2 separate regions of the Homo sapiens genome follow, and region 2 is linked to region 1. Evidence: fine-mapped expression QTL. Tissue or cell type: whole blood. Region 1 holds a variant in brackets; the other region holds the start of a gene. All regions are shown on one strand. Distances are from middle to middle.

Region 1 (2,756 bases):
TCGCTTCTCAATAATGCACATTCTTTTTTTTTTTTTTTGAGACAGAGTCCCTCTCTGTCACCCAGGCTGGAGTGCAGTGGCATGATCTCAGTTCACTGCAACCTCTGCCTCCTGGGTTCAAATGATTCTCATGCTTCAGCCTCCCGAGTAGCTGGGATTACAGGCACCCGGCACCACACCCTGCTAATTTTTGTATTTTTAGTAGAGACAGGGTTTTGCCATGTTGGCCAGGCTAGTCTCAAACTCCTGACCTCAGGTGATCCACCACCTCGGCCTCCCAAAGTGCTGGGATTACAGGCGTAATCCACCGTGCCCGGCCTGATACATGCACGTTCTATCAATGCTCTCTACCTTTGGCTTACTGACAAGTAAGGAAGAATTTAAAAAAGGCCTATGGGTTGCCTTATCTTTCTATTTCTTTCTGTGTCTTCATTTTCAGTTTAAGTTGTTTGCAAATGCAAAGAAGTAACATGAGTAAGAAAGGTCAAACCAAGTTTCCTTGGTCATATGTGTTTCTTAGAATACCACTGCTGCCTTTGTGTTTGAAGCAAGTTTTGGTTTTCAAATGGAAAGTGTGGCCTCTCAGGGCTGTCAGTGTCCCTCCCCCTCCCCAGCTAACTCATCATAGACAAAACACACTTGGGAGTCACTTAGAAGCTTCATGAACTCCCACACATTGTGAATACACCAGAATTCTGAGTTCATGGCGAATGCTCCATGTGAATAGGGTGACAAGAAAGGACAGGCACACGTATCTCCTGTGTTTCTGCTCATTCCATGCTGTCTCATCAGAAGTCACTTACAAAATACAAGTTTCAAGAGGAAATTATTACAATTTTAATACGGTGGCCGCAGAGCATGAAACCCATCAAGAAGTCCTTCTGAGCACCAAGTCCTATGCAAGCACACAGGTGACGTGCCATGAAGCTGGCCCTGCACGTGGGGTGGCACCATGCATGAAAATGGTGAAGAGATCCCAGGGGATCGGGCGGTGCACTGAGAAGGAACACCAGGCATCCAGACCTGCACACAGGGCAGTGTGCACAGCAGGAGTCCAGGGCAGCCAGAGATTCACTACCAGAGGTACAGCCCGAGAGCACATGCCATGCCAGGAAAGAGGAGACAGGCAGAGACAGGAAGATCAAAGTGGAGGGAGAAAAGCCAGATTACTGGTTAACTAAGACACTCAGCCGGCAGTGTCAGGAGAGAGCCACAAAATGAAGGCAAGGGAATCACGGAAGCCAGATACTAGCAAAGGGGCATCGGAAACCAGTGGCCACGTGGCTCTGATCCCAAGCACTGAGTGCCCTCCCCGGCATCCTTGTGGGGCTGTGAGGTTCGTTTCATGTGTCTGGACGTGGCTCCTCAGCGTGGTCTTCCAGCTCCTCTCATCCCTCTACCCTCTTGGTAAAAACAAGACATCTTCTAGGAGTGAGGCAACCTCCCCGCTGCCCTGTAGAGAGCCACACTTCTGCTTTTCTAGTGTTCTAAGAATGCTTTTCCTGATTTATCAT[C/T]GTTAAGAATGGGTGGGAAACTAGCTATGTTGAACATGTGACGTGCAAGGTGGTTAATGGTGATCCACCAATGAGCAGGACGCCAGGACCTTGTGCAACTGGGAGACTTTGCAACACCACAGCGGAAGGCTGTCCCTCAGAGGTTTGTAGCCACCTAGGGGCCTCCTTCTATCACCCATGACTAAGTCTTCTGCATTAGCTTAGAGCAGTGTTTTTCAGCCTTGAAACCATGAACATTTGGGGCCAGACAGTTTTCTGTTGTGGAAGACTGTCCAGTGTACCGTAGGATGTTTAGCAGCCTCTCTGGCCTCTGTTCACTGCATGCTAGTAGCAACCCCCTTTCCCTACCCTGTGACAAAAATGTCTCCAGACGTTGCTAGATGCTCCCTGTGGGAAATCATCACCCTTGGTGAGAACCTGTGACTTTGAGCCCATGAGCCCTGCAGAGGATCATGTCTGAGAGGACGCCACTCCCACCACATGCTCTTCCAGCTGGAATGGTTGTCTTTGCAGTGCCTGCTTTTCTGAAAGTGTCTCTTTATTGCTTTGGCTTCCTTCTAGCACTATATTCCCCACTCCTGGGCAAGTTAGTAAGGCCTGGGGGTATAGTAAAGTCACTCAGTGGGCAAGTCTCCTTGCTCTGTGTTCATCCAAAGAGAGTTAGATCAGCCTTGAAAGTCACTGCAAAATATATATATCCTGAGGCCTACAAAGATTTTTGTGAGCTCACCGTCCCTTTGCTAACTCTCTAGGGCACTGTGTACTACTATGTAGCAAGAGCTCAATGTTTGCCAGCCTTGTCATATGTTTTGTCTCTTTTAATCTTCAAAGAGAAAAAAATAACTCCTATAACATAACAGCGTATCTCCTATAACTTATAAAAAATTCCTATAAAGTAGTATTGACTCCCATGCCGGGAATTAATAAGTAACTTGCCCAAGACCACCCAGGTAGTAAATGGATTTGAACTTGGGTTTTTTGGCTGCTGGTCTAAGACCTTTTCTATCAATGCTTCCCTGGCTTCGTGCATGTAAGAATCACCTGTGGGTGTTTGCAAACAATGCAGGTCCCCAGGCCTCGCCCCTAGAGCCTTGGTAGGCAGGTTTAGAGCAGGCCCCAAGAATCGGGATTTGAAACATCTGATGAAACACGTCATTCCGGTAATGACTGTGCAGGTGACTGCCCCTTGAGTAACACTGAACTCCATTATTCTGTGCTTCCTGGCAAACCATCAGGGAAGGA
Region 2 (2,500 bases), 91 kb after region 1:
GAAGGGAATCAGATTCTGATCCAACTTGGTCAGGAAAAAAAAAAATAAGGGCTGATTTTTCCATCCAAGTCATGTAGTCTGGTTGGAGTGCATCCCACTCAGGGACAGCTATTGTCTGGATTCACCGAGTCTCAGTCTTGCCCGGGAAAAAGGAATTTTTCGCCTCACTGCTCTGTCCGTGAGAAGAGTTGCAGAAGGTGACCATTTCTGTTTTCTGGGTGATTCTCTTTCTCTATAGAAATCCTAAAATGGAACCTTTATAGAAATTATGTTCTGTGCTTCGCTGGAGAGAGACTGGTCTTTTTAACCAGGCTCATCAAACAGTGGGCATTTTCGTTCTCCTGGATAATAAGTGTTGGTGGGTTAATGGGTCATCCTCAGGACAGAGGTCAGAAGGAAAAACACTGCAGTGTTCAAAGCTGGAGCTAGAAATGCCAGCCGTCAAAGAACACAGAACTCAGTGGACGGTGATGATGTATAGGGCGTGCACTGGCCAACCCCATCCGAGAGGTCACATCTAACCTTTATCCTCAGCAAAGCCACTGAAGGTCGCTCAATATGTGTGACCCGCAACTCTGAGGCCCTGGTGAGAAGCTGTCCAGGAAAACGCTGGTGCGTGTGCTAGAGGGTTCCTTTTCACTAAGGGAGAATTGTCTTCCAGCTCCTTGCAGACTGACATCGCAAAGTACTTTGAACGTTGAAAAGAACAAAAAAAGCAAACAGTCACACACACACAAAAAGTAGGCGGGAGGAGGGGGAAAGAAAAAGGGACAGAGAGAGAGAGAGGTATCAGCAGGGGTGGTTAGTAAAAAGGGGCCCGGAGACAGAAAACCTTTTGTTCCCGGAGTTCGTTTCATGTAGAGATTGTGAGGTGAATGGCTTTGAAACGAAATGGGTTTATGAAGGAGTTGCTAGGTCACAGGAAGCGCGACTGTCAGACTGCTTTTGTGAATTCAGTTTCTTTAAAATTTGGGTTAATCTTAAAAAGAATGTATCTCCTTTTCCTGTTCTTTCTCTTTCTGTCTTCTTTTTTGGCGGGGGCGGGAGGACAGAGTAAGGTTCAGGACGGTTCCCCACTTTCTGTTTTATTTTCCACCGTCTGATAAAGCAAAAAGAAGCGATCACATTACAAGTTCTTTGTCAGTTTTTCAGAATTAGGGGTGGGCAGGGCCTGAGCATTACCTTGTCCCACTAGCCAATGGCGGGGCGGCATGCAAATGAGGTCCGCGATCAGCCTGCCTCAGTCACAACAGTGAGCTCAGAGACTTGAGGGAGGCGCTGCGACTGACAAGCGGCTCTGCCCGGGACCTTCTCGCTTTCATCTAGCGCTGCACTCAATGGAGGGGCGGGCACCGCAGTGCTTAATGCTGTCTTAACTAGTGTAGGAAAACGGCTCAACCCACCGCTGCCGAAATGAAGTATAAGGTAAGAGAGTGCCTTTTACAGGTTACCTTGCAAGCTGAAAGCTGTGCCTGCGGGTGTGTGCTTGTGTATGCGTGTTCCTTACTGTCAGTCCCTTGTGTGTCCCGGAGAGTTCTAAGATGAGTCTCGGTCACTGAGGTTGACATGCAAGCAGACAAGCAAGCAGAGACCCGGTCTTTGAGACCCACTCCAGGGGTTCACAGTACACCCGAGTCCATCTGCTCTGAAAGTTGCCGGGGAAATACCTCGGTGAGAAGTTAAGACTTGGAGCCGCTTCACAGCAGCCACTGGAGATCAGAGGGTGTCTGACTTGAATCGCGGCAGGCATTGGCTCAAGTCTCCTTGGCTTCCCCAGGCCTGGCTTCCACTGCCCTGGGGAACTGTAATGAGAGGAATGAGGACTGCATAGTCTGTCTCAGACTGGCTCTTAGTGCAAAGTTTTCCAGACTTTGCTTTAATCGTTTGGTCTCGGAAGGAGTATGCCATATGCACTTTTGGTGGGAGAAATTAAAAGCCCAGATTACACAGCTGAGGATGGAAAATTTTGACATCCTTATGTTATATTGGATGTAGGAATAAATAAGTATGAGCCATTTCTTGAAAACATTTTTATTGGAGTTTGAATGGGGTGAGAGTGCGAAGGCTCAGGCTGGCTCATTGTGCCTGAAAGCTTACAGAGTGTCATAGTCATAGTACTTCAGCAGCATTATTTTCCAATGCATTTTACACCATTGTTTGTGGATTTTTCTTGCCAAAAGGATTTTTGACTTGCTCCGTATATTCCCCCCTCCCCTTTTTCTTTTAAGTCACTCCCATCTAAGGAGGCAAGCAGCTTCCAGGGGACACAAAGAAAGCAGACTGCAATGAATTGGACATGAATTTTTCTTGAATGATGAATAGACATGAGTGCTAGTGCTACTATTTTATTTTATGCTATTTTAAACAAAAGTGTTATTATTAAGATGGATTTGGGCAAGGGTGCTAGGCTTGTGGATTGACAATTTATATTAACTGTACACTAGCTGGAAGCTACTTCGCTTTTTTTCTAAATTTTTCTGGTCCATCCTTTTTTGATGTA

The links. PIP is the estimated chance that this variant, and not a neighbour inherited with it, causes the effect.
Region 2: NEDD9 starts here. The variant in region 1 is fine-mapped to the expression of NEDD9 in whole blood (TOPMed, PIP above 0.99).

Annotation. Positions count from the first base shown.
Region 1 is chr6:11,322,637-11,325,392 of GRCh38, reverse strand. All of the region lies in intron 5 of LOC105374925 (a long non-coding RNA gene), which reads right to left. It also overlaps a transcript of NEDD9 not described here. Among named protein-coding and RNA genes, the nearest start is that of NEDD9, 91 kb to the right of the region's middle. The variant C/T (reference allele first, on the strand shown) is at 1,515.
Region 2 is chr6:11,231,429-11,233,928 of GRCh38, reverse strand. It overlaps NEDD9 (neural precursor cell expressed, developmentally down-regulated 9), which reads left to right and starts at 1,261. Exons shown (of 7, transcript NM_006403.4): 1 at 1,261-1,425. The coding sequence starts at 1,414. RefSeq lists silencers at 1,174-1,223, 1,704-1,753.